Linked DNA regions of Homo sapiens. Each later gene encodes a partner of the first gene's protein in a complex. Each region holds a gene or a part of one and is shown on either strand. Other genes may lie near its edges.

Region 1 (8,309 bases):
ATAATCTTCTAAAAGATGAACCTTGAATTTGGGTTCATGTGTGGTTTCCTGCTCAGTTCTCCTAGTTTTTGCAGCCTTCTCGCATGTTCTTTTTATATGAAATAACAATTATTTAGTATTTGTAAATCAAGACCTGTAGCAAATCTCACCTGGCCTGGATGCTCAGAGCAGAAATGTAATTCCCTTTCTTGGACTGTTCAGTGATTGGTCTCCTGCTGGCTGATTTTGCTTCTTTACAGATCAACGTTCTTCTGCAAGCCTTCATCTCACAGCTGAAATTGGAGGGCTTTGCACTGATGGCTGACATGGTGTATGTCACACAGGTGAGAGCGGAGTTGTATGGCAGCTGTGAGAAGGGGCCTGAACAGTTCAATCCCTGTGTGCTGTGTGCATCCTGGGGAAAGGAGGCCCGACCCTAGTGAGATGGGAGGAGTGCTTAGTTCTGCTCTTGCCGGGTAGTTGGTTGGTGCATGTGTGGTACAGCCACTCTGTAGTATACATCTTGAGCACGTGGGAAAGGTAAGACCTTAAGAGGGAATGCTTCGAGGCTCCACGGGCCCTCAGAGAGACAGGAAGAGCCACAGCACGCAGTGTCTGCTTCCCAGCAGCAAAGTGATTTCCCACTGTTGCTGCACAGCTCATAAATAAATCCAAAAATGGCACAGGGTTTTATTAGCTGCTCTTCATCTTTACCTCTAAGAACAGGTCACTGGTACCCTCAACTCTTCCTAGAACTCTAAATGCTAAATGACTCAAAAGCTTTAAAATCATGCAGTGAATGTTAGGTTAAAATGTTGTGCAGTGACCTTGAGCCGCAGCACTCTTCTAATTGTTCCCCATCCGGCAAGCATCTACTATATGGAACGGAGAAAGGCGTAAAGACAGAGGGGACTTTGCCTTTGAGTTAGGGTGGGTGGTTGTGTCAGAGCTGGAGGTAATGAAACCGTGTGTAGAGTGGCTCATGAGGCCTGGGGATAGTCGAGACTTAACAGTGGGAATGCTGCTTCTTTGCTTAGTCGGCTGGCCGGTTGATGCGAGCGATATTTGAAATTGTCCTGAACCGAGGTTGGGCACAGCTTACAGACAAGACCCTGAACCTCTGCAAGATGATCGACAAACGCATGTAAGGACCCAGTGAGCTGGATGCTGGTCACCATGAGTGGGGGTCCCCAACCCAAGGGTCTGATGGGAAAGCCTCAGGGTGCATCTGATCTCCAGACCTGACATCGGAAGTATGACCTGAACCTTGGTGCACATTGAGAAGAGGGAAGGCCCTCTGTGGTGGAGGCCAGGGCTGGCACAGTGTCAGTGTCTGCCTTTAATGACTGTGTTTTGTGTAGTCACTGCTAAACTATTGGAAGCCATGAAGTGGGTGGTTTGTCACATCCCTGCAGAAGGGACCAACAGCTTTGCCTCCTTCCTGGATAGGTGGCAGTCCATGTGTCCTCTGCGCCAGTTCCGGAAACTCCCTGAGGAAGTAGTGAAGAAGATTGAGAAGAAGAATTTCCCCTTTGAGCGTCTGTACGACCTGAATCATAATGAGATTGGTGTGTGGGATGCTCTCGCCCTTGTCCTCACTGCCTGGGTGTCTCTCCCAGTTTGCCTATGTAGTCTTCCTGTTCCTAGGCCTGTGCATTAGTATCCTGTGTTCACTCCCCAAGTCCCACTGAAGTACAGGCTGGCCCTTGGTCTGGGGACTTGGAATCCTGGGCTCCACTGACCATAAAGGGAAGACCCTACCCCTTTCCCACAGTGGCCCTCAGGCCCAGTTTGCAGTATAGTAGGCAGGCTGGGCTGCAGCCTCAGTACTCTCATTTCCTTGTAGGGGAGCTTATCCGCATGCCAAAGATGGGGAAGACCATCCACAAATATGTCCATCTGTTTCCCAAGTTGGAGTTGTCAGTGCACCTGCAGCCTATCACACGCTCCACCCTGAAGGTGGAGCTGACCATCACGCCAGACTTCCAGTGGGATGAAAAGGTGAGGCTTTGCTGGGCAGAGGTGCTGGATTGGAGGTGCTCAGTCTACGTTGCTGGGCCGAGGAGATGGATTGGAGGCACTCAGTCTACGTTGACTCACATTCCTTTTACCCTTGCTCCTGTTGGCAGGTGCATGGTTCATCCGAGGCTTTTTGGATTCTGGTGGAGGATGTGGACAGCGAGGTGATTCTGCACCATGAGTATTTTCTCCTCAAGGCCAAGTACGCCCAGGACGAGCACCTCATTACATTCTTCGTGCCTGTCTTTGAACCGCTGCCCCCTCAGTACTTCATCCGAGTGGTGTCTGACCGCTGGCTCTGTGAGTGTCTCCTCTCCAGAGTCCCCAGGAACAGTCCCTCCAAGGACAGTAGAAGAATGTCTTGCACTTTGTCCCGGGCTTGCCCTTGCTGGGGACAGAGTGATACATATGCTGCCTAGGTTTCCAGTGTTCATGGAGGGGATCTAGAGGCCAGTGAGGGAAAGAGAGCAGTGCTTATATCCTTCCTGTTTCTTTTCTGGCAGCTTGTGAGACCCAGCTGCCTGTCTCCTTCCGGCACCTGATCTTGCCGGAGAAGTACCCCCCTCCAACCGAACTTTTGGACCTGCAGCCCTTGCCCGTGTCTGCTCTGAGAAACAGTGCCTTTGAGAGTCTTTACCAAGATAAATTTCCTTTCTTCAATCCCATCCAGACCCAGGGTAAGTGTTTCCATCCCTCCTCTGGAGGCTTTTGAAGTCACCGGGAGACAGATGTGCTCTGTGGCAGGCAGGGGAGTGGGGGTGCTCAGGCACTTGGGAGGTCTGGGAGCTCCTCAGTGTGACCGCTGGGACCCACCAGGACTTTTTCCTTTGTCAGAAGCCTTTGGTTGCTTTGCTGCTCTGCATGTGTCACTGTGGAGGGGCAATAGAGCAAGGCCTTACATGGCATGGTCATTTCTCGGGCCCAGGAGGCTTAGAGGCCTGCCCCTGGCGCTCAAGTATTGAACCAGAACCATGGGGTGGCACTGAAGCCTCCTCACCACATCATGATAAATAACGGGGACATTCACAGAGCAGGCACTGTTTCCTCAGTCCATGGCTGAGTACATCACCGGTGTTTTCTCTCTTATTCCTCCCATCAAGCCTAAAAGGAATCTCTATTGGAGATACTGCCATTAGTGTTCCTTTTATAGGTGAGGAACTGAGGCATAGAGGGTTCCCCAGTTGAACCAACTGATAAATAGTAGAACTTGGATTTTAATTCAGTCTTGATGCCAGGGATAAGGCTCTTACTTTCTACCTTAGGCTATTTCTAGGAAACGCAGGAGAGTGTTGAAGGGGCAGAGAAAGGGATCCAGTTCCTTTCTGTCCCGCATCCTAGTCCCTGAGAAGCAAAGAAGAATGTGTGGCTTCTTTTGCTTTGCTTTTGTTGTCATCCCACACATCTCCAGGGGACCTGGGCTCTTGATCTTGGCCTCTTCCCCTTTAACTGTTAAGTGGGAGCAGGTAAGGGGGTACAGTAGGGCTGGCCTGGAGTTAGAGGCTTGGATGCCTTAGCTCCTCTGTCTGCACTCCAGAACTGCCTGACTTCATTTCGTATGTTGTCCTTTGTTTTGACAATTGATCCATGTCCCAGTCCGTCTCTTCTTCCTTCTTGATACTTACACTGCTTCTTTCTGTTGGTTTCCAGTGTTTAACACTGTATACAACAGTGACGACAACGTGTTTGTGGGGGCCCCCACGGGCAGCGGGAAGACTATTTGTGCAGAGTTTGCCATCCTGCGAATGCTGCTGCAGAGCTCGGAGGGGCGCTGTGTGTACATCACCCCCATGGAGGCCCTGGCAGAGCAGGTATGACGTGGCGCTGTGTCATGTGAATTTCCCAAGAAGCATTTCATCTGTGATTCCGTATGAAGGCTTTCTAAGCCCTGAAATTTGCAGGGTCATTTCCTCAGTTTGTGTATTAAAGAAAAGCTGCCCCAGCCAAGCGTGGTGGCTCACGCCTGTAATCCCAGCACTTTGGGAGGCCGAGGCGGGCAGATCTCCGGAGATCAGGAGTTCGAGACCAGCCTGGCCAACATGGTGAAACCCTGTCTCTACTAAAAATACAGAAATTAGCTGGGCGTGGTGGTGTGCGCCTGTAATCCCAGCTACTTGGAAGGCTGAGGCAGGAGAATCGCTTGAACCCGGGAGGCGGAGGTTGCAGTGAGCCAAGTTCGCACCACTGCACTCCAGCCTGGGCAACAAGAGCGAGACTTCATCTCAAAAGAAAAAAAAAAAAGAAAAAGCTGCCCCATCGCATCGCATAGAGGCTGCTATGGGATTAGAACGTAGCTTGAGATCTGCAGGTCAACAGGTCTGTTTGGCATCTCAGGTTTTCCTCACATAAGTGAAAGATGCCTGGTATGGCCTAGTGTTGTTCTGCCTCCCTCCTCTGCCCGCCAGGTATACATGGACTGGTACGAGAAGTTCCAGGACAGGCTCAACAAGAAGGTGGTACTCCTGACAGGCGAGACCAGCACAGACCTGAAGCTGCTGGGCAAAGGGAACATTATCATCAGCACCCCTGAGAAGTGGGACATACTTTCCCGGCGATGGAAGCAGCGCAAGAACGTGCAGAACATCAACCTCTTCGTGGTGGATGAGGTCCACCTTATCGGGGGCGAGAATGGGGTATGGCGTGACCTTGCAGCACAGATGAGGGACTGGGACTGACCAAGTGGCCTTGGCATTGGACCTAATGTTTGGGTCTGAGGACGGAGGCTCGGGGCTTCTCCCCAGAGGATTCTACCTGCTGCCCTATTCCAAAGGGACAATGTTAACTTTTTTGGTAGTACTTTAGGAAAACAGTATTGTTTAGTGGAGGTTGGCTGCCGTGGAGGAGGTAGAACCAAACACATGAGAGCTCCTAGTTAGAAGGAAGAATGAGGTCATTTTGAGGCTGTTGGGCTGTTCACAAAGGGGACCTCCAGGCAGAGGATGGGAGCCTTGGCCTGCAGTGACCCTCCCTCCCTCCCTCTTTCCAGCCTGTCTTAGAAGTGATCTGCTCCCGAATGCGCTACATCTCCTCCCAGATTGAGCGGCCCATTCGCATTGTGGCACTCAGCTCTTCGCTCTCCAATGCCAAGGATGTGGCCCACTGGCTGGGCTGCAGTGCCACCTCCACCTTCAACTTCCATCCCAATGTGCGTCCCGTCCCCTTGGAGCTGCACATCCAGGTAGGACCCACTCTCCTCATCCGTCTGTGGGGTGTCACATAGATCCTGAGTGACCCAGGTCTGATAACCTTGGTGTCTTTTCTTCTCCCCGGTCGCCAGGGCTTCAACATCAGCCATACACAAACCCGCCTGCTCTCCATGGCCAAGCCTGTGTACCATGCTATCACCAAGCACTCGCCCAAGAAGCCTGTCATTGTCTTTGTGCCGTCTCGCAAGCAGACCCGCCTCACTGCCATTGACATCCTCACCACCTGTGCAGCAGACATCCAACGGCAGAGGTAGGTGGGGCCTGGCGTCTGGGGGTTGGGGTTAGGTTAAGTGAGGCTGGCCTACTCCAAGGGTGTCCTCTTTATGAGGGTGGGGTTAGCCCATGTTGCTTGGGGCCAGGTTCTGCACAGCTGGCAAAGTGTCTGCCAGGAATTGAACTACTCTGAGCTGAGCCAGTGCCTGTACCGCACAGGTTCTTGCACTGCACCGAGAAGGATCTGATTCCGTACCTGGAGAAGCTAAGTGACAGCACGCTCAAGGAAACGCTGCTAAATGGGGTGGGCTACCTGCATGAGGGGCTCAGCCCCATGGAGCGACGCCTGGTGGAGCAGCTCTTCAGCTCAGGTAAGTCAGGCCACGGAAGGGGAGCATAGCAAGGGTATCACCAAGTGGTGGTGTTAAACTTGAGGGGTGCGGGTGGCAGTGTTTTCTCTACAGCATACCAGAGATTTTCAAAATACTGTTTAGGACTCTTGGCTGTTAACTCATTTGATCCTCCCAAGAACCTCGTGAGGCAGGTGAGACAAACACTATCCCTACTTGCCAGGTGAGAAAACAGGCAGACACATCAGGTTGTGCTATTTCAGAACCTGGTTTTCTAGAGTCCAGGACCTTTGGCCACCAGACCGCTGATTCTCCGTGGATACCAGACTCCCCAAGTGTATTAGTCCGTTCTTGTATTGCTATAAAGAAATACCTGATACTGGGTCATTTATAAAGAAAGGAGGTTTAATTGACTCAGTTCTGCAGGCTGTACATGAAACATGGTGTTATCTGCTTCTGGGAAGGCCTCAGGGAAGGCAAAGGGGAAGCAGGCATCTTATATGGCAGGAGTCAGGACCGAGAGAGTGAGTGGGGAGGTGCTACACACTTTTGAACAACCAGATCTCGTGAGAACTCATTCACTAGACAGTACCAAGGGTGGGTGGTGCTAAACCATTCATGAGAACTCTGCCTCCATTAGCCAGTCATCTCCCACCAGGCCCTTCCTCCAACACTGGAGACTACAGGTCGACGAGATTTGGTGGAGACACAGATCCAAACCGTCTCACCAAGATAGTTAGACTTTAGAGATTAGCACAGAGGAGAGCTCTGATTCTCCCTTGAGCTCACTCTTGCTGGCCACTGTCTCTTGTTGCCCTGTGGCATTTTGTGCAAAGATTTACGTTTTAATACTGTTTATTGGAGCCTCATTGGAGATTCTTCTGCCAGAATCACTTCCTGTCACTCTTTGGCCCTTGAATCTGCCTGTTTGGGGCATGCTTAGAGTGATCTCTGTTTTGCTGGCATGGCTGAGCCAGCCCGTGGCTGCATGAGTGTTAGCACTTTCTGGTCAGAGGAGCAGTCCATCAGCTGTAGTTTTGCCTTGGTGTTCCTGGGCTTTGGGTTCTGTTCTATGATGACTTGTTTTCTCCTGGATAGTCCCAGAGCAAGGCACCAGCAGCGTGGAGCTACCTCATAGCAATGTGTTAGCTCTCATTCATGTTAGACCTTGTTCCTAGCCAGCCTTGCTGTGAGTTCTGAAACATAGCACAGGGTAAGCCACGGCCTGCCCATGAGGCAGTGAGCCTACTTCACCCGGAGACCCCTGCCCTCAGCCTTCCTCTCCCCTCTACTGCTCAGGGGCTATCCAGGTGGTGGTGGCTTCTCGGAGTCTCTGCTGGGGCATGAACGTGGCTGCCCACCTGGTAATCATCATGGATACCCAGTACTACAATGGCAAGATCCACGCGTGAGTACAACTGGTGCTCTGTGTTAGCACAGACCTCCTTCCTAAAATGAATGTGAATCTGCAGATACACAGAAAGTAAGCTAGGATGAAGAAAAGGTGTTAGGGAAGTTAACAGCTGAGATGCCACCAGAGCCAAGTGTTTGAGAGTTTTGTGTCTCAATACCTAGGCTCACATTTGCTTTTTAGTCATTGTGCTTCCTTATTCAGCAGCTGGGAGAGGTAGGAAATTAGAGCCAGGAGGAATGTTTGACGTTACGTCATTAATCTCAGACATCTTGTAGATTAGGAAAAGTGACTTGGTCGAGGTCATACACCTATATAGTGACAAGTAAGAAGCTAGAGGAGTGCCGAGCGCAGTGGCTCATGCCTGTAATCCCAGCACTTTGGGAGGCTGAGGCGGGCGGATCACTTGAGGTCAGGAGTTCAAGACCAGTGTGGCTAACATAGTGAAACCCCCGTCTCTACTAAAAATAACAAAAATTAGCTGAGTGTGGTGGCAGGCGCCTGTAATCCCAGCTACTTGGGAAGCTGAGGCAGGAGAATCAGTTAAACCTGGGAGGCAGAGGCTACAGTGAGCTGAGATCCCACCATTGCACTCTAGCCTGGGCAACAGAGTGAGACTCCAACTCAAAAAAAAAAAAAAAAAAAAAGCCTGGGTGTGGTGGCTCACACCTGTAATCCCAGCACTTTGGGAGGGCAAGGTGGGCAGATCACCTGATGTCAGGAGTTCAAGACCAGCCTGGCCAACATGACAAAACCCCGTCTCTACAAAAATTAGCCAGGTTTGATGGCAGGTGCCTGTTATTCAAGCCACTCACCTGTAATTCAAGCCACTTGGGAGGCTGAGGTTGGAGAATCACTTGAACCCAGGAGGCAGAGGTTGCAGTGAGCCAAGATCGCGCCATTGCACTCCAGTCTGGGCAACAGAGTGGTACCCCGTCTCAAAAAAAAAAAAAAAAAAAAAAGGGCCAGGTGTGGTGGCTCATGCCTGTAATCCCAGCACTTTGGGAGGCCAAGGCGGGTGGATCACAAGGTCAGGAGTTCGAGACCAGTCTGGCCAATGTGGTGAAACCCTGTTTCTACTAAATATACAAAAATTAGCCTGGTGTGGTGGCACGCGCCTGTAATCCCAGCTAC
Region 2 (8,309 bases), on another chromosome or scaffold:
TTACATACGTGAGCCACCGTGCCCGGCCAAGAAGCCTTTCTTTAATAACTCTCCTCTGTAGACAACCTTTTCTTCTTCCAAATTCCTATATATTTTTTTGAATTTACTGTGTAATTTGAGAGTTCAGAGGCTGTATAGTTGAGGTGAAAAGAGGTGCATGACAGACAAGTTAAGAATTGTAATTGAGTCCAGGCCTGGCTTACTGGCAGTCTGGCCCAAAATGCAAACAGCCTTCTATTTTAAAAAAAATTGTTAACAAGGTGCTAAGGAGACATAAATCAGAGTAATCCATATTTGAGATCATCCATTATATCCCAAACCAAAAAAAAGAGACCTCTATGGACCAATGGCTAGGATTCAGAAAATGCTTAACTATAGAAAATAATTCTTTATAGGGTAGTTTTGTAACAGGATTTTACCGTAGCAAATGTGGAATAAAGAAAAGGTTTAGGTTTAGGAACACCCATTAGGGTTTTTTCGTTACTTCAACATAAAGTACCCTTTAATACACGAAGTACATCCTTTAAACAGCCAAGAGAAAGGAGGTTGTACAATAGAGACGTCATGTTTGCTTTCTAAACATTTGTTTGACTCCTGACACAATGGTTTTGCTTTGGGGTAACATGAAGGTTGCCAAACTTCAAAGTAAAAAAAAAGATATTTTCTGACAAAGCAAATGTTCAGTTCAGAGTTGCCTGATGCTGTCAGCATTCCAAGCAAACTCAATAGGAAGAGGTGAAGTCTTCTTCACTGTATAACCATCGGCGTGGCTGCGGTCTACTGCTTCACATCCCATTCTCCAGGGAAAGGAAAAGTGCTCGCTATGATGCATTGTTTAACCAATGAGTGGTGAGATGTGCCTCTTTACCTGAGGGCTTCCAGACTATAGTTCAGCCACCTTGCTCTCTGGGTCATATGTAGTCCTGAAGCATGTACCATGTTATGGAAAGCCAAGTTTCAAGAATTAAAAATGCAGAGTCAGTCACAATCCTGGGTGCTGTGAGGAAGGCTATAAGGCATTCGAACAAATTTTTTTTTTTTTTGAGACAGGGTCTTGCTCTGTCACACAGGCTAGAGTGCAATGGCGCAATCTCGGCTCACTGCAACCTCTGCCTCCCAGGCTTAAGCAATCCCTCCCACCTCAGCCTCCCAAGTAGCCGGAATCACAGGCAGAAGCCACCGCGACCAGCTAATTTTAGTATTTTTTTGCAGAGACGGCATTTGCCATGTTGCCCAGGCTCGTCTTGAACTCCTGAGCTCAAGCGATCTACCCACCTCGGCCTCCCAAAGTGCTAGGATTACAGGCGTGAGCCACCACGCCCGGCCAAACAAAAGATTAATAAAAACAATGTCTACACAGTTCGTGGCAGGGCGTAAAAAGGTAATAAATTTTCAACCGTGAGAGGGGTTCCCCATCACCTAGGGATTGGGCTGCCTTCCTGGAGTGGGGGCTGACATGGAAATCCAATTCTACTGAGGGTCTATGCATGGTAATTGGCAGAAAACATGATAGAACTAAACACTTCAATTCTTCTCGTTTGAGGAAAACAGCTCCTTAGAGAGAGCTTGAGGTTCAAGTCCTTTTCCCATTGTCATCTATTCAGCCATCCACAGCTTGAAGGTCCTGTCATATGAGCAAGTGGCTATGAGCTGCCCATCGGAAGAAATATCTAGGCCCATCACTTTGCCTTCGTGGCCAGCCAGAGTCTTCAGCGGGGACCAGCCTGGGTGCGTCCAGATCTTGGCTGTGTTATCATAGGCACCAGTAAGCAAGAAGTTCCCATGGATAGCTACAGGAGAAGAGAAGGGGAATTGCTTGAGGAATTCAAGTATTCAAAAGAGAAGACAAAAGCACAAAAGTCTGCAAAAACATACTATTTTTAAAAAAACTTGTTTCTACAGACTTAAGGGAACAAATAACAGTAAGGTCTTTTGGCTCATTCCCTGACCGAGAATCTATTCAGAATAATATTAAGGACTCAGTGCTCAGAGCATCCATGGAGGAAAGAATGAAGCAAAGCACTCATGAAAGTCTGCTTTACTTCCTGCAACGAGAAGCGTGCTTTCCCACAGATCTAAGGGTATGGCAGAGGGAAGGAAATTATAATTTGCTCCTTTACCAGTAGGTCAATTTCTCTCCTGTTTTACTGCTCAGTTAAGCTAAAGCCTGGCCTGCATTCCACGGGAACACAATACTGTTTGTCTGTGTCATTTAGACGTAAAATAGGAGGAAAGCTTACGCTCAAACTTGACACCAGTCACTAAGTTCTGATGAGCAGGGATGGTGTAGACGCAACGCCGCTGTCGGAGGTCCCACACTTTGCAGGTGTTGTCACCACTGCCGGTTGCAATGTGATAGCTGTGGATTGGATGCAGTATTGAAGTTAGAAATAGAGTACTTACTGACCCAGAACCCTTTTTCGCCCCTCATTCAGTGTGTTTATTTTACCCATTGGGGGAGAAATTTATTCCATAGATTTCTTTCAGGTGGCCTTCTAAGAACATGATACAACGTCCTGTGCGTAGGTCCCAAACTCGACCAAATGCATCCAGTCCCCTGAGAAAATAATTTAGAAATGAACACTTTGAATCCAGTTCTCTGTGGAAGCAGGTATAGGTAAGAGGTGAGAGTACTGAACTGCCCCTGACTACATGGGAGAAGCCTTACCCAGTGCCAGCCAAAGAGCCATCTTGATGGAAGGCAATGTCATACACACCCATGCTATGGCCTTCCTGATGCAGGATCTCCTCTTGAGCCTCCAAATCCCATAAGCGCCATGAACGGTCATAGCTAAAACCAAATCACACTAACAATCAACCAGCTGATATTTATTCAGTTTCTACAACACATAAAGTATTCTAAGCCATTATAGCTTAAGTTATTAATGCTTCTGAAACTATTCATATAACCATATTAACAGGAAGCTCCTTTCTGACATAAACAATGACTCAACAACTAAGCTTATCTGCCTTAGGTGCTAGCTGAAAACCATGGAATCGCTGTAAACCTCTAGGGCTTTTTTTTTTTTCTTCTTTTGAGACAGAGTCTCACTCTGTTGCCCAGCCTGGAGCACAGTGGCGCAATCTTGGCTCACTGCAACCTCCACCTCCCGGGTTCAAGCCATTCTCCTGCCTCAGCCTTCTGAGTAGCTGGGACTACAGGTGTGCGCCACCATGCCCAGCTAATTTTTGTATTTTTCATAGAGATGGGGCTTCACTATGTTGGCCAGGCTGGTCTCGAACTCCTGAGCTCAGGTGATCCACCCACCGTGGTCTTCCAAAGTGCTGGGATTATAGGTGTGAGCCACCATGCCCAACCTAGTGGCTATTGTAATAACAGGATTCCCCAAGAATGGCCCAGCAAAGACTCTGTTACCTTCTTTCTTCCTCCACTGTTATATTCTTTCATTCATCAAGCATTTATACATTTACTAGGCCCTAAATTGGATGTTGGGGATACAAAAATCACTCATACACAAATAGATCAATGGAAGAGAATAGGAAGTACAGAAATAACCACACATATATGGTCAGATGATTTTCAACAAGGGTACTGAAACAATTCCAACAGAGAAAGGAAAGTCTCTTCAATACAAGGTGGTATAACTGACTATGCACATGGAAATAAAGACAAAAGAGACAAACACAATTTAAAAAACCAGGCAAAGCATATGACAGAGCACTCAAGAGCAATAATGATCAGGGTAATAAGAATGAAAATCACGGGAGATCACTACACACCTGCTAGATTGGGCAAAATGGTAAGACTGACAACACCAAATGTTAACAGGGATGTGAAGTAACCAGAACTCCGGGAATGTAAAATGGTGTAACCGCTTTGGAAAACTGGTGGGGAGTTTAGAAAAAGTTAAATATACATCTCATACCTCTACCCTATGACCCAGCAATTGTACTCATGTCCACAAAAAGCCTGGTACAAGAATATTTATAGCAGCTTCATTCTGACTGGCCCAGACCTGGAAACAGCCCAAGTGTCCATCAACAGGAGAATGGATAAACTATGGCACAGTCATAAAAATGAATAACCCCCAGCAATAAAAAGGAATTACTGATACATGCAACAACATGAATGACTCTTAACAATGTTATGCTGAAAGAAGCCTGCCACAAATGAATTCACAGTATGAATAGACATAATTAATTTGTGGTGATAGAAGTCAGATCAGCAGTTGCTTTAGAAGGGGGAGTTGGCTGGAAAAGGGCATGAGGGACCTTTCTGGGGTGATGGACTATTCTCTATATTGACAGAGGTGTCGATCACAGGAATGGTACGCGTTTGTAAAGACTGACAGCATTGTACACTTAAAATAAATCCATTCCATTGTATGTAAATTATAACTTAATGGAAAAGTTCTCTAACAGATTCTAGCCTCCCTGAACTTACAGAACCAGGAAGGGAGACTTATATACCTGTAGCATTGGACAAGAGTGAAAATCCTTGTTTTCTGGTAATTTGTAACTCTGAAATTTCAGATTAATTGTAATTTAAAGGCAAATATGGCTGGGCGCGTTACCTGTTATCTATAATCCCAGCACTTTGGGAGGCTGAGGCGGGAAGATCACCTGAGGTCAGGAGTTTAAGACCAGCCTGGCCAACATGGTGAAACCCTGTCTCTACTAAAAATAAAAAAATTAGCTGGGCATGGTGGCACGCGCCTGTAGTCCCAGCTACTCGGGAGGTCGAGGCAGGAGAATTGCTTGAACCCGGGAGACGGCGGTTGCAGTGAGCCGAGATCGCGCCACTGCACTCCAGCCTGGGTGACAGAGTGAGACTCCACCTCAAAAAAAAAAAAAAGGCAAATATACTTAGCTCTCACTATATTAAACATTCTCCTCTGATTCCAATTCCCTGCAGCCCAAGAAAATCCTACCTGAAGATCTCTGCTCTAAAAATTTACCTGGCAGATAGCCATAAAGGGTTAAGAAGATGCTACAGGCCTATATGGATAAAACAATAACAGGATGGCTCACCAGGTGGTGCCCAGGAAACGTCCTGAAGGATGCCACATTACCCGCGCCACACGCACTGTATGGCCTTCAATATCTGCCACTGGTTCATCACTGGAAAGGAACCAAACATATAAACAATTTTATAGACATATAAATAGTCACAAAACTGCTTACCTTCTGTGCAGACATACCCATTCTGTACAACACGAGAGGCTAAATTGTAACTACACTTGTAAACTACTTTGGCCCAATAAGCAAAATAGTCATTCTGCACCAAAGGAGTACCTGGATTCTAGAAAGAAAACATGCTTTGGAAGAGATATAAGGACACAGAAATCACATAGTTTTGGTACAAGTGGATTACAGATAAACCTTTTTCAAATTTAGGCCTGTTCCAAGATCCAAATGAAAAAGGAACTCCTAAATAGAGATGAGGCTTAGTCTCCTTTTGGTGGCCATTAAATTCTGCTACCCAGCAACCACCAAAAGATCTGAACATCAGCAAAAGGAAATAAACATGAACTCTAAGGAACGCAATTAAAAAGGGAACTTTGTCAATGTGCATACACAGAACAAGCCAAAGCCCAAGGGGAATAAACATTGCTAAGTATTACCAAAGCCAATTAAAACTCACTGCGCTCCTAAGTGAGACCCTGTCTGGTGAGGAGTGAAGACATTAATTAGCTCTCATAAAAATTCTCAAGTAAAAACCTTCATGTGTTTTCCCAAAGAAAGAAAACTAAACAATTAAATTCAGATGCCTTTTGGCCAACAGGGTGCTTCCGAAGTTTTTTTTTTTTTGGAAAACAATCACATAAACACATTTTTAAAAACTGTTGTAGTTGGAAAATACATTCTAGGTAAAGGATGATGCTATTGCGAGGAGACATCTCCGTGGTAATACTGCTAGACAGAACCTCACTTTCCTCTCCCCTGTGGCTGTTTGCTAAGAACCAACGAACTGCCAAGAATATTATATTTAGTTCATTGTTAATTTATCATGTAGGAGGTAGGCTGGATCTTTCTGGAATAAATGGAGCTAGGAAATAGTGGTCACTAGGCTATAGACAAAAATCAAGATCCAAAGTTAACAGGTAAGAAAAAACGGACATAACTCCTTTAGTAAGAAAAGGCCTAAGAATGAAATCTTCCACTTACTTCATTTTCACACTAGGTTACCTTGACTCTTAAACCATCTTGGGGGTTAAATGCCAGATTTTTTTTTTTGTTCTTTCAAGACGGAGTCTTGCTCTGTCACCCAAGCTGGAGTGCAGTGTGCAATCTCGGCTCACCACAACCTCCATTTCCCGGGTTTAAGCAATTCTCCTGCCTCAGCCTTAAGGTGTGAGCCACTGCGCATGGCCTAAATGCCAGATTTTTACTGAGGTCCTGGGGACCAACCAATCAAACATCTACTTTAGTGATGGCAGTATGGGCCACAGAACAGTGATATTCACCTGTCGAGACTCCAAAGCTTCACAGAGCCATCAGCCGCACAAGAGGCCAGGTTGACATCTTTTGGGTCCAAGGAGACAGTGGATTTGGGATGGAATACAATTGCTCCTACATTTGTGTTATGCCCTAAAGGAGTGTAAGAGATGCAAGTTAAAAGGTTCCTGCCTCTTTATAACCCATGTTATATACTAGGGAACATGTGGACATACAGAGTATTCAAGTGACTATTCAACTATTAAAACATGAACTATTTTAATTTAAGCTAATATTTAAATTACATTTTTAAAAAAGCAAAACACAAAAAAACCCATTTTGGTTTTTGGTTTAGAGATTATAAAATGCCAGAGTGTGACTGCACATGAGAGAAAAGTGGATGTGTAGGAAGTTGTGATAGTCCAGTCTTGCAGCCAGAGAAAACCAAGTCAAATCAAATCAAGGATTAATGCTGTGTGTATGGGGTCTGAGTGTCAAGCAGAGTTTAAGGCTTAACTGAGTTCACACTGGGAAAAAGACCGAGATTTGGATAAGACTCTAACTTACCTCGAAGAGTGTGAAGGAGGTTGCAATCAGGAACAGACCAGAGCTTGCAAAGCCCACTCCTATCAAATACAAAGGAAAGCATCTCAGCCAGGGTTGGTCTGGGAAGGAAAAGGTACCTTGGTAATATTACTAAAGGACAATCTCTTCTCACCCCCAATAAACTTTACAATGGCTGACAGAAAAATAAAAGCCTTATAGTTAGAAGGGTTATAGAAGAAAAAGCTACCTCCAGCCCACACGCAACCAGAGGCTTTTACTGGACTATAATTAACACTACACCAGTAGCCATTCTCCTTAACTTTTGGATCCACTTGTGAGGGAAGGTGGGGCAAATTAAACTATCCAATAATACGAATATTAATAGTGATACTGTCCTTAAATATGAATAGTATTTTGCTGATTACAAAGTATTTAAATTTTTTTTTTGAGAAACAGTGTCACTCTGTCACCTAGGCTGGAGTGCAGTAGTGTGATCACAGTTCACTGCAGCCTCAACCTCCCAGGCTCAAGCAATTCTATCACCCAGCCTCCTGAGTAGCTGGGACTAACAGGCGCATGCCACCACACCTGGCTAACGTTTTAAAAAATTAAATAAATTTTTAAAAATTTTTTGGGCCAGGCGCTGTGGCTCACACCTGTAATCCCAGCACTTTGGGAGGCCAAGGCGGGCAGATCACAAGGTCAGGAGATCGAGCCCATCCTGGCTAACACGGTGAAACCCTGTCTCTACTAAAAATACAAAAAATTAGCTGGGTGCGGTGGCGGGTGCCTGTAGTCCCAGCTACTTGGGAGGCTGAGGTAGGAGAATGGCGTGAACCCAGGAGGTGGAGCTTGCAGTGAGCCGAGATCGCGCCACTGCACTCCAGCCTGGCCGAAAGTGTGACACTCCGTCTCAAAAAAAAAAAAAAAAAAAAAAAAAAAAAAAAAAAAAAAAAAAAAAAAAAAAATTTGTAGAGACAGGGTCTCACTATTGTTGCCCAGCCTGGTCTCAAACTCCTGGGCTCAAGTGATCCTCCTGCCGTGGCCTTCCAAAGTGCTGGGATTACAAGTGTGAGCCACCATGGCTGGCTGGCCTTAAACTTTTTAGAGACTTCTTATTTTGGAAATTTTTCAACAAATTACTTTTATATCTATTATCTCGGATGATCTTTCTAACAGACCTGTGAAGCAGGTACGGCAGGAACGATCAAACTTTATAGTGAAGGTAATGAGGCTTGGAGAGGTGGACTCATTTGTGCAGAACCTTGGCTTTCTCCTGAACCCATCTAAAGGTCAGCCTAGTCAAGTAGCTCCTGTGTATTCAATCTAAGTTTCCTTTCTCATTAGATAGCCATGTCCCACAG
Region 3 (3,907 bases), about 11 Mb from region 1:
ACTGTGGGTTTAATCTTAACTAGCTTCTGTTTATCAAGTGCTTTATTGTGGTTAGGCAGTACGCCAGTTACTTAATGTACATTAATCTCATTTCTTTCATTAAAACACACCTCCAAGACAGATGTCAGTATCATCTTTTTTACAGAGGAGGAGACCTAGGCTCAGAGTTTCAGTAATTGACCTCAAGTCAGTAGAATTAGGATTTGACCCAGGTACTCTGCTTCAAAGCCCATGTTCTTAACTCGTCCTTGAAGCAGGAATGGGAACTTACTTATGTGATCCTGAGCTTTCCTTATGTTTCCTATATTCTCAACTATTGTAATATCCAGAGGATCTGGAATATTTATATTCTACAATAATGGTCTTTGGTATTTCTTAGAACTTTGGTTGGATAAGACAGGTGGGCGGCCAGAGGTGCCTCTGCCTTAATCTAGAAACATTTTTTCCTTGTTCATGGAAGCATGAAGTGAGATACGTTTTGCTGTATTTGTAGCACTGGTTTCTTAGGCCAAAGGAATCAGGTTAGTGTGATAGACAGTGTCCACCAAGGACACCTTTTCTTGATGACCTGTTGCTTTTTTTTTTTTTTTTTTTTTTAAGACAGAGTCTCACCCTATCACCCAGGATGGAATGCAGTGGCATGATCTTGGCTCACTGCAACCTCCACCTCCTGGGTTCAAGTGATTCTCCTGCCTCAGCCTCCCAAGTAGCTGGGACCTACAGGCACCTGCCACCAGGCCTGGCTAATTTTTGTATTTTTGGTAGAGACGGGGTTTTACTGTGTTGGCCAGGCTGGTCTCAAACTCCTTACCTCAAGTGATCTGCCCACCTCGGCCTCCCAAAATGCTGGGATTACAGGCGTAAGCCCCTGTGCCCAGCCAGGAATGTCCATATTTAGGTTCTCTCAGTGGTTGACACTGTGTACCTCATAAGTGAGAATGTCTAGTCTGTCATTTCTGAGCAGGAAGGAGACATCATAGGTGATGATTAGATGGCTTCCTCTTTTCTCATCTTTAGTGTCCACTAAATTCCTTTTAAAAAGATGTACAGAAGTGTTTCAGACTCCATTGTACTTCAAGGGGCCAGGCGCAGTGGCTCATACCCATAATCCTAGCACTTTAGGAGGCTGAGGCGGGAGGATCTTTTGAGACCAGGAGTTAGCCTGGGCAACACAGTGGGACCCCATTGCTATTAAAAAAAAAATTAGCCAGTTTTAGTGGCACACACCTGTAGTTCCAGCTACCTGGGAGGCTGAGGGGAGGATCGCTTGAATCCAGAGGGTCAAGGCTGCAGTGAGCTGTGATTACACCACTGTAGTCCAGCCTGGGTGACAGAGTGAGACCCTGTCTCAAAAAAAAAAAAAAACAAAAAAACAACAAACAAAAAACAGTGCTTTAAAAAAATTCCCAACAGGAATTGAGTTTGCCATGATTGACACACCAAAAGTCCTATTAATTGAATCATGGCCAGAAGAAGTCATGTACCCTCTTCTTTATGACTGTTGCTGGATGATGTCTAGTGGCTGTTCTTCTAATTTTTCTAGTCTTGGCTATGATCCTTTCCTTCTACACCCTTTTGGTTTTAGAGAGCAGACTAACCCAGCTCTTCATACTTTCTGCAGGGGACAGGCAAATGGTATGAATTACAAGACCTCCAGGTGACTGACATCCTTCCCCAGATGATCACACTGTCAGAGGCTTACATTCAGGTGGGTTGGCCACAGGCTTAGTGAGCCACAAATAGGTGGCGTATGGGGCCAGTGAGAGGAGTGGGCCAAGGCAGGAAGAGGGATAGAGTTAGGACCTTGGTTGGAGGGCCAGGTACCTATTGGGAAGTACTTAGTAGTGAGTTGGGGGCAGAATGTATGGCCCTGAAAGTCAAGCAGAGATTTTCAGAAAAGAAGTATAAGGAAGTGTAGAAAATGTATGAGTGAGCAAAGAAAGTTGCGATTATGGCCAGGTTAGTTTTGCAGAAGTGTGCGGTCTGGTTTCGAGGAGGAAGAACCTAGACTCATCAGGGAGGCTGGCTAGAAGTCGACCACGAAGTGCTCCCCAGAGCCCCAGGCAGCTTTGTGACCCCACAGCGCTTTCTACTTGACGTTTGTTTTAGTGCCGGCCATATCGCTTTGCCTGTCTGTCCTCTCCATTGGATTGACCCATGGAGCACAGAGCATCTCTGTCTTCTCTTTATGTAACTGCCCTAGTACCTGGCAAAAGAAGGAAGATTGAGACAAAAGCCATAGCTTTGTAAGAAGAAAGTGATACCTCTCCTTCTAGAGATAACTTTTTTCTCCTCAGTGGCTGTAGCCACTGTAGCAGATTTCCAAATGGGGTATAGCAGATTTGTAAATGGGGTGACAAGTTGTCCATGGCCTGGCACAGAATAGGTATTTGATAAGTGTCTGTTGACTGAATGCCTCCTAGACTTCAGTTTGTGTTTTCATTTCTTACAGATTTGGAAGAGGCGAGATAATGATGAAACCAACCAGCAGGGGGCTTGAAGGAGGCGTCTAGGGCTTTGCTCCCAAGGGCTGTGGCTGATGATGGTAAATAAGAACACAGAAGCTGTAGCTGAACACAGGCTGGCTGGTGGGCTTCCTAGGCCAGCCCAGCTTGTATGGGTTCTGGCTACACCAGAGCACCAAGAGCCCACTTGCCTGGGATGGCCCCACACTGTCACTCAGCTGTTCTTTGATCATTTTTTTCTAGATTGATGCTCCTTTCTCCCATGCATTGAGCTCCCATCTAGCTTCAGCAGGGCAGAACCCTTCTCCAGATGTGTGTAACTTATGTCTTGAGTATCTGGGAGTAGTTGAAGAACAGATAATTCCTTCCAAACATCAAGCCTTGGGATTCTTGGAGCAAGCAGAAAGCCAGTAACTTCGCTCTGTTAGAGGTGGAGGATTTTCCTATGGTTCCCCCCATTTCCTGATTTGTATTTTTAGATGGATTAAATAGTCTCCTGTTTTTAAACCAGCCTCTTGTTTTATATCTTTTCCTTTGGTGGTTGGCTGAGGAAAATATTTTCCTTTTTAATCTTCACAAACTCTCTACCCTACAGTCTGACATCTGGTGCACATCACGCTCGCCCTTTCCTGTCAGCTTGTGGGTGGTGTGTCAGTTAGGATGCATTTGTTTCTAAGTAAAAAAATACCTGAGTCAAGGGGATACATTATTATTGTGCTTAACTAGAGGGCCAGAGGTGGGCAGTTTCCAGCTGCAGTGCAGGAATGAGTAAGGGAAGAGGAAAAAAAGGAAATAGGAAGCGCTTCTCACTACAGTGCAATTCTGAGGTGGTCTCAGCCAGTCCAGTGTGGAGCCCCAGGGCAAAGATTCCGTCAGACAATTCAGCAGAAATGGCTCCCATCAAGCTCAGTCGTGGGCTCTAGCAGCCTAGAAGAAGGGTGGCCTTGGCATGAGCACTGTGGCAGGTCCAAAGATATGGGAAGCAGCTGGAGGCAGCCAGTCAGCCCCAGCAAGTTCTGTTGAATGGAGACAGGAGCCCCGCACTCCTGTGGTGCCACCCTTTACCTGGTCACAACCTTGTCCTCACTTTCCTCTACCTCTCTGGAAGCTCCAGTATTTCCTTAGGAGGCTTATCTCTTCTATCCAGCCATTAAATTTGGGTTTTCTCAAGATTCAGTCCTAGCGTCACTCTTCTTGCTGTTTACTTTTTCCCTAGGCCATTTCAGCTATGCATTTTTATGGAAATGACTCATAAACACATCTTAATCCCAGATTTTTCTAAACTCTTGAACTTCGCTCTGTTGCCCAGGCTGGAATGCAGTGGCACAATCTTGGCTCACTGCAACCTCCACCTCCCAGGGTCAAGTGATTTCCGGCTAATTTTTTTATTTTATTTTATTTTATTTATTTTATTTTATTTTTTAATTTTAATTTTTATTTTA
Region 4 (8,309 bases), on another chromosome or scaffold:
CATCCCACATACAAATCCCAAACCCCAGCGACTAGTGTTGCTTGAACCCAAGGGTTCATATGGACTCAAGACAATTTAGCTTTTGAGCTATGTTGTCGCACAGGTAAGGACTTGAACTTCTGGTCACAAGGTCAGTTGGGAAGGCCTGCCCTGGCCTACTTCCCAAGCCCACTGTTACTTCCTCTGCCGCGCTAGGGCGCTAATCTGGCTATTTTTACTCCCCAAGGACAAAGTAGTAAGGTCAAACCAGACCTAGAGGTACTTCCCCCAAGCCTTCCTACAAAGCAGGGCAGTGGTGAAACACAGATTTCAGCCTGGGGTTGGCGTCACCACCAGTCAAATGCGCCGTCTAATCCCAGTTTATGTTCGTGGTTACTGGGGCAGCCCAGTGATTGTAGAAAGAGACTATTTTAGTCCTTTTGCAAGAAGGGGCTAAAAGGAGATGAGGGAGGCTCAGGAGTGTTAAATATTCATCTCTTTCCTTGGGAAACAGCTTTATTTACAAAACAGGTCTAAAATAAGAACATGAAATGACAAGTCCTTGGGAACTGCGGGAGAGGTGGTTCTTGTGTGAAGCCCAGGCATCCAGACGTAGGGCCAAAAAAAGGGCTAGTGTGAGGGGACCTAAAACTTGAACTCCTTATATTTCTTGCTGCCCCCACGGCTGTCCTGGGGCTGAGCTTTCCGTTTTTTTTGCTGTATAGGGAGAAAGAGACACAGGTTAAGACAGGTTGAACCACCCCCGGACCCCCAAAACAAGGGTGGGCAGCCTGACATAGACATAGAAGTCTGTGGGAAAGGCGCTGAATCTGAATTCTCTTCGAGCTCCCTCTCAGACTTGGCTGAGTTCCTCCCCCTCATCGTCCTTAAAGAGGGCAGCCCACTGGAGGATTTCTAAGACTTCCAAATCTAAGGAAGCACAGAGCAGCAAGCAGAGGCCACCCTCACTCTCACCACTAGAGGGCACCATGCCACTGAAAACGGCAGGCCAGGGTCCCTGGCTCTCACCCAGCCCAGCGCCCCTGGAAGCGCCTACCTTCTGTTTGGCAGCGTGCTCAGCCACCATGTCACTGAAGTCCTCCTTCTCTACTTGAGCCTGCTGCTCCCGCACATGCTCCTCATACTTCTGGGTCATGGCCATAGGATCCAGCTCCAACTCTTCAGGCGCCAGCGCCACTTCCACACCTTGCAGCTCAGGAGCCGGGCCCTTCCGGCTCATAACCTGGAAAGGAGATCAGGGCCTGGTCATCTCCAAAGAGTCAGAGAAGCCCTAGCTTCTGCTGCCTTTCTCAGCCTCCAAAAGCAGTATCCTCCAAGTACTCACCGTGGACATGTCATAAATGTGGGTTGATCCCATCATGGCCCCTCCAACAGTGGCTGTTCTCTTCTCTGGCAACACAGTGAAGAGCTGAGGTGTCTCACTTCTGCGAAGGACAATGGGATCAGGCCCAAAAAGCAAGGGACAAAAGGGTCTCCAGAAGCGGAAACAAAAGATACAGGTGGCACCTCCACTCAGCGCCTTGGAGAGCTTCTGAGCTCCCCAAGGATGCAGCCTCTGCAGTTCTGCCCATGACAGAAAAGAATTGGGCGGGGGGGTGGCACAGTGCTGACTCCAGGGAACACAGATGGAGCTAAGGGGCCCCCTGAATCAAGTCAAGGGATCACAGACCAGGACTCCCACATGCACATAAGGGTCAAAAGGTCAGAGAGGCTCAAAGTTTCCAAAAGAACTTTGGTACAGAGAAGCTGGCAAGATAGAGCAGGCGACAACAGTTCCCACCCGAAGAATGTCATGCCTGGAGTTCTCATGTATGTAATTCACACTTCCAGGCCTTCCAACGCAAGAGCCATCCACAGCCAGTTTCACCACTAATTTCAAGGATTACACTAGGAACAAGAGCAAATCTACCACTATCACCCCAGACTATGCCCATCATCTCCACCTCTCCCGCTGGAAGAGGTGACAATCTATTGTCCACACAGGAGCCAGAGAAAATACCTTAAAACGGATGTCGGGTCCTGTCAGACCTTTGCTCAAAACCCTCTGAGGCTTCTGATCATTATCTGAATAAAATCCAAACTCCTTACCATGACCTAAAGGGTTCATAGCCTGGTCCCTTACCCAAGCCCTCCTCACTATACTCTGTCCACAGTACCCTTCTTTATTTTTCTTCCTTGAATATGCAAAGCTTGAGACTTCTGCTTCCTGACAAGGAGCAAGAGGAACCAGATACACCCTCCTGCCTGAAACAACCAAAAAAAATGGGCAAAATATATGAAACAGTGGTTTTCAAGACACTACACATGGGGCAACAAAGCACAGTGATTCCTGCGAGACAGGAAACAAATGTGATGAGCCCTTCAACTGCCCCAGCATACCACACCTGAGAGTTTGCAGGCCACAGAACAGAGGGGAGACTCATGGAGAGCCCTGAGGACTCCGTGAGTTGGGAGGATGAAACTGAAAGTCCAGGGAGATCAAGGCAGCTAGAGTTCACAGGATAGAGTACTGGAGAAAAGAGCAGAGAGAGAACTCGAGACCTACAGAAGGTCCTCAAGTATGCAGGGGAGTACTAAGCAGCACATGCCTACCAAGGACAGGGAAAGAAGCACCCAAAAGGATTCATAACAGCAACTGCTGCTCACTCAGAACTGGGAATAGAGTAACTCCCACTAGCCAGCCGGAAAAACCTCCTGATTCACAGGGTGGTGGGTAGAGTACACAGGTACTTGTGCCTCACAATGGGGAGGACTGCTTCAGTCCTGCCTCAAGAACCCCAAAACAAGACCTGAAAGGATCAAACTATCTCCATATAACTATATTCCCGAATGAGCTGAAGAAAATGTACAGGAATACAAAAATATCTTGGACCCAACAAGGTAAATTTCACAAAGCCTAGCATTCAATAAAAAATTACCAGGCACTGGACAGGCCTGATGGCTCACACCTGTAATCCCAGCACTTTGGGAAGCTGAGGCAGGATGATTGCTTGAGCCCAGAAGTTCAAGACCAGCCTGGGCAACACAGTGAGAACCTCTCTCAAAAAAAGAAAGGAAAAGAAAAAAAAATTACCAGGCGTGCAAAAGAGTAGGAAAATACAATCCATAATGAGGAAAATGAATCAACTAATGGCAGTCAACCCAGAAATGGCACAGATGTTAGAGTTAGCAGACAATACATTAAAATGTTGTTATAGCCAGGTGTGGTGGCTCATGCCTGTAATCCCAGCACTTTGGGAGGCCGAGGCAGGCAGATCACCTGAGGTTAGGAGTTCAAGAACAGCCTGGTCAACATGGTAAAACCCTGTCTCTACTAAAAATACAAAAAAATTAGCTGGGTGGGGTGGCGCACGCCTATAGTCCCAGCTACTTGGGAGGCTGCGGCACAAGAATTGCTGGAACCTGGGTGGCAGAGGTTGCAGTAAGCCGAGATCACGCCACTGCACTCCAGCCTAGGCAACAGGGCAAGACTCCGTCATAAAATAAAATAAAATAACATAAAAATAAAATATTGTTATAACTGCATTCCACATGTTCAAAAAGTTAAGAGAGAAAGAATAGATTTAAAAGACCCGAAATCAAACTTCTAGAAAGGAGAATTATATTGTATGGGATTACTGTTAGATCAGAAATTACAGAAGAAAATAATAGTAAACTTGAACATATAGCAATAGAAATTTTCTAAAGTGAAATACAAAGAGAGAAGAATTTCTTTAAAAATGAAGAGCATCAGTGAGCTCTTCATTTATTTTTTCATTTATTATTTCATTAATAGAGGAATAATTTGAGTTCCCAAAGGAAAGAGAAGGGAACAGAGAAAATATCTGCAGAAATCATGACAAAATTTTCCCCAAATTAATAAAAACTAAAAACCCAGATCTAAGATGCTTAAAAAACCCCAAGCAAAGAAACATTCAGAAACTACACCAAGGCACATTGTAGTCAAATTGTTAGAACTAGTGATAAAATCTTAAAAACAGCCAAATAAAAATGACACATTATGTACACAGGAACAAAGGTAAGAATGACAGCAGTTTTCTCACTAGAAACAATGCAAGAAAGAAGACACTGGAGCAACATCTTAAAAGTACTGAAAGAAGGCTGATGCGGTCACTCACACATGTAATCCCAACAAGCTGGGAGGCCAAGGCAGGCGGATCACTTGAAGCCAGGAGCTCGAGACCAGCCTGGCCAACATGGCAAAACCCCATCCCTACTAAAAATATAAAAATTAGCTGGGTGTGATGGTATGCACATGTAATCTCAGCTACTCGGGAGGCTGAAACAGGAGAATCGCTTGAACCCAGGAGGTGGAGGTTATAGTGAGCCAAGATCACACCACTACACTCCAGCCTGGGCGACATAGCAAGATTCCATCTCAAAGAAGAAAAAAAAAAGTGTTGAAAGAAAAAAGATTGTCAACCTAGAATCCTAAACCTGGCAAAGATCTTTCAAAAATGAAGGCCAAATAAAGAATTTTTAAGACTACTCAAGCAGAACAAATTCAAAACCAGCAGACCCACAATACAAGAAATGTTTTTTTAATATTTTGTAGAAATGGGGTCTCACTATGTTGCCCAGGCTGGTCTCAAATTCCTGGAATCTAGCAATCCTACCACCTCAGCCTTCTCCCAAAGTACTGAGAGTACTGAGATTACAGGCTTAAGCCACCACGCCCCCTAACTTAAGAAATGTTAAAGGAAGCCCTTCAGGCAGAGGAAAAATGATATCAGATAGAAACCTGGATATACACAAAGAAATGAAAGAAACAAAAATGGTAACTACATGGCTTCATGCATGATTCTTATTTAAACCTCCCTAAAAGATAACTGACCATTTAAACAAAAATAATAACTATATAGTATAGGATTTATAACATATGTAAAAGTGAATATATGACAATATAGTGCAAAAATTGGGAGGAGAGAAATGAAGTATACTATAATGGCTCTTAATACTATCTGGAAGCAGTGTAACATCAAGAGAAGGTAGATCCTGATAAAGACATGATCTATAAACCCCAGAGCAACAACTAAAATAACAAAGCAAAAACTTAACAGCTAATTAACCAACACTGGAGATAAAATGAAATCATAAAAATTGTTCAAGTAATCCAAAAGAAGGTAGAAAAACAGGAAAAAGGGAACAAAGAGCAGAATGGATAAAGAGAGGGTCATTTCATGATAAAGGGGTCAATTCATGAAGACCTAACAACACTACACATTCAACTACCTAAAAATGGAGCTTCAAAATACTAGCCCATCCCTGTCTCAGTGCCTTTGCACTTGCTTGCATTTACTGTTACTTCTGACCCAGATGATCCTGTGGCTGGCGCTTTTTCATTCGGGTCTTAGTTCAAGCACCACCTCCCCAGTGAGGCCTTCCCAAAGGCCTCCCTGCCACCCCATCCCATTACCCAGTTTCCTCTGCTTCAACATCCTTATCTACATCTGAAAGTATCTTGTTCTCTGATTACCAGTTTACCTCAACTGCTGACTCCTCACTGCCTACAGTAGTGCCTGGCAGAGAGTTGGTTCAATAATTGTTTAAAAAAGGATGAGGGAGAAAGGAACAACAGTCAGCCAGCCAGCCAAAGGGAAGTGAAGGTCCTCCCCTCTCAGCCCTGTCTGGTACCCTTACCCGTCCATCGCCTCCTCAATCTTCTTCTTCCTCAGCTCAATGAGTTCAGGGGTCTCCATTCCAGCAGGCACTGATGAAAAGCCTCCAGGAGTGATAAGGCCACTGTAAAGAGAGGAACAAGCTCTGGAGTAAAGAGAAGGACCCCAAAGATAGCCCACTTCCAAGAGGCATTCTCTGCTTCCCCCACCTGTCTGCAGGGGTAATAAAGCCTGTCTCATCTGGTTTGTCTTCATCACTTTCTTCCTCTTCCTCTTCTTCTGAGGATTCTTCATCAGATGGTTCCAGTTCCCCCCAAGGGGTCCGATCAATCTCTTCTTCCTCAGTCTTGGTCTGAAAGAGATCACTTTATCATTCAACAAATGTTTTCTAAGTACCTATTATGTGCCAGGCTGTTTTAAGCTGAAGGGGTGTAAGAGTCAAAACACAATAATCCCTACCTACCTAGAGCTCAAATTCTAGTGAGGAGCTTACATTAACATCTCAGGAAAATGTATGCCCTTTTCCAGGCTCTGCTGTGTCAGAACACACAACTCCCTGATAATGAAGCTATAAACCAACAATCTAACCTTCATGACATTAAGTAAAACCAAGATCGCTAGTACATGGCCCATACCTGAAATTCAGCAGCATTGGTTCCAAACACGTCCCCATAGAGCGGTTTCCCAGTCTCATCCACTGGAGGTTTGCCCCAGCCACCAGCATGGTACCCAAAGGAACAGCTCTGCAAGACAGTGAGCACAATCAGTTCACTCCTTAGCTGCAAAAGAAATTCTGAAGCCCTAGAGAAAAGGCACACTCAAAAGTACAGAGCTGATACTTGGGAACTCCGGAAATTATGACTGCAGAATTAAATCAAATGTTATGAAGCATTAGAAACCAAAATTAATAAACAACTAAAATCTGGAGGCAACAGGATAAGGAGACAGGAGGCAGAAAGTATGCTAATAACTTCTGTCATGGCAGAGTCTTTACTGTCTGAAACCAAAATACGTACATTGAAAACATGACTTCAATTTCTTATTGAGTTTTCCTAACTTTGGAAAGCTAGCTTGTTCAGAATCTATTTATCTTAAGGGGCAGAAATTTCTATCTAAAATTTAACAATACTACTGTTTTACTTTAATGACTCATCAATTTTTTTAATGCTTATTTTAAAATAAGAAATTTGAAGACATTCTTGAGATAAAATTATTTCTGAGAGACTGAAGTGAAGCTAAAAAAAAATTATTTCTTTTTTCTTTTTTTTTTTTTTTAAAGTAGAGGTGCGGTTTCACTATGTTGCCCAGGCTAGTCTTAAACCCCTGGCCCCAAGGGATCCTCCCACCTCAGCCTCCCAAAGTGCTGGGATTACAGGTGTTGAGACACCACATCTGGCTGAGATAAAATTATTTCTCTCTGGTCATTCTTAATATTCAGAGACATATCTGGAAACACATTCACCAAACAGTGAATTTGGCTATTTCTGAGTGGTAAAATTGTGACTTGCTTTCATCTTTGTACTTGTCAATTCTGACTGAATATTTTATGATGAGCATGTCAGTTTCTTTAAAAAACAAAAACCATTATTTGTTTTTCTACACATACACATGGTATATGACAAATATTATGTCAATAAAATATTTTTTAAGTAAATAAAGAGACACATGGTGGAGTTAGAGAAGGAAAACAAACAAATTACCTTCCAGTTCAAAAGCAGAAATGGCCAAGAATGAACGAAAGGACAATGCTCACCTCAGGGATGGGCGAGTTCAGCCCAGGGATTTTCAGGTTGGGATACGATGGGGGTGGTCCATATCGCTGCATGGCAATCAGCCATGGGGGAGGGACCTTGTGGGCATTCTGCAGGAAAAAGAGAACAGGATACCATCTGCCAAACCCTATCCCTGTCTCTGCCTTCCACTCCAATCCCCACCAGCCTCTTCGCTGCTTCCCCAGACAGCTAACTGACACTCACTGGTCCTACTGGCATCCCCAAGGAAATCCTTAGCTCATCAGACAGATCTCCTGGCTTCTTCTCCTTCAGTCGTGTCTCGAACTCCTTCCCCTGAGGGAAAAGCAGAGCATGCTACATTGTAGACCCAGACACTCAGTGGGAGCACAATCCTAACGCACATCAGATATAAAATCCCAGTGAGGGCTACCTGGCTCCCACTCTGATTCTCATCACTTCTTTCCCTGGCCAAAGTCGGGGAAGGAATAAAAACCAGGCCAGACTCACAGTGCTGTCAATAACCCACTATGAGAACACGGCCAACGTTAGGACCTGCCTCCTCATCTGTAAAATGAGGGCACTCGACAGGAAGATATGCAAAATTCTTCCACCTCATAAATTCCATGACATCATGGTGACTACGATTTCAAGGATCAGAAAAAACCAGCAATTTCTCTACCACTCCCAATATTAAAAGTTTCCTAAAAGCATCTGCCCCTTGGCCCCTCCATCCCTAAACCACCTACCACAAACTATTATCATTTCTAAGACAGGATACGAAGAGTCTATCAGGGAAAGAAGCCACCAGATCTGCATCTCTCCTCCAAATAGAGCCTCATTTTTAAATTCCATCTCATCCGAGGGTAGTCGATGGGCAATTCTAAGGCTGAGGAACTATCGTAGTTGCTTCAAAAGCCCTCCTTGGCCAGGTGCGGTGGTTCATGCCTATAAACCCAGC

What was found.
Region 2: SNRNP200 (region 1) and PRPF4 share a complex: the UniProt entries of both Homo sapiens proteins name them as parts of the U4/U6-U5 tri-snRNP complex.
Region 3: SNRNP200 (region 1) and USP39 share a complex: the UniProt entries of both Homo sapiens proteins name them as parts of the U4/U6-U5 tri-snRNP complex.
Region 4: SNRNP200 (region 1) and SF3B2 share a complex: the UniProt entries of both Homo sapiens proteins name them as parts of the minor spliceosome.

Annotation. Positions count from the first base shown.
Region 1 is NC_000002.12:96,280,677-96,288,985, reverse strand, and holds part of SNRNP200 (U5 small nuclear ribonucleoprotein 200 kDa helicase), read left to right. Parts: intron 1-239; coding exon 240-323; intron 324-1,016; coding exon 1,017-1,123; intron 1,124-1,428; coding exon 1,429-1,547; intron 1,548-1,825; coding exon 1,826-1,980; intron 1,981-2,108; coding exon 2,109-2,298; intron 2,299-2,501; coding exon 2,502-2,675; intron 2,676-3,645; coding exon 3,646-3,806; intron 3,807-4,400; coding exon 4,401-4,628; intron 4,629-4,981; coding exon 4,982-5,173; intron 5,174-5,272; coding exon 5,273-5,451; intron 5,452-5,633; coding exon 5,634-5,785; intron 5,786-7,063; coding exon 7,064-7,172; intron 7,173-8,309. UniProt on the Homo sapiens protein: Catalyzes the ATP-dependent unwinding of U4/U6 RNA duplices, an essential step in the assembly of a catalytically active spliceosome. Plays a role in pre-mRNA splicing as a core component of precatalytic, catalytic and postcatalytic spliceosomal complexes.
Region 2 is NC_000009.12:113,284,948-113,293,256, reverse strand, and holds the end of PRPF4 (U4/U6 small nuclear ribonucleoprotein Prp4), read right to left. Parts: intron 7,065-8,309; exon of another isoform or gene 7,049-7,064; coding exon of another isoform or gene 7,026-7,048; coding exon 6,967-7,025; intron 6,553-6,966; coding exon 6,429-6,552; intron 5,083-6,428; coding exon 4,993-5,082; intron 2,792-4,992; coding exon 2,669-2,791; intron 2,558-2,668; coding exon 2,450-2,557; intron 2,360-2,449; coding exon 2,241-2,359; intron 1,791-2,240; coding exon 1,597-1,790; 3' UTR 352-1,596; downstream 1-351. UniProt on the Homo sapiens protein: Plays a role in pre-mRNA splicing as component of the U4/U6-U5 tri-snRNP complex that is involved in spliceosome assembly, and as component of the precatalytic spliceosome (spliceosome B complex).
Region 3 is NC_000002.12:85,646,309-85,650,215, forward strand, and holds the end of USP39 (ubiquitin carboxyl-terminal hydrolase 39), read left to right. Parts: intron 1-1,621; coding exon 1,622-1,708; intron 1,709-2,452; coding exon 2,453-2,500; 3' UTR 2,501-2,975; downstream 2,976-3,907.
Region 4 is NC_000011.10:66,061,061-66,069,369, reverse strand, and holds the end of SF3B2 (splicing factor 3B subunit 2), read right to left. Parts: intron 7,685-8,309; coding exon 7,595-7,684; intron 7,480-7,594; coding exon 7,372-7,479; intron 6,362-7,371; coding exon 6,254-6,361; intron 5,971-6,253; coding exon 5,828-5,970; intron 5,743-5,827; coding exon 5,641-5,742; intron 1,425-5,640; coding exon 1,325-1,424; intron 1,223-1,324; coding exon 1,037-1,222; intron 697-1,036; coding exon 625-696; 3' UTR 62-624; downstream 1-61. UniProt on the Homo sapiens protein: Component of the 17S U2 SnRNP complex of the spliceosome, a large ribonucleoprotein complex that removes introns from transcribed pre-mRNAs.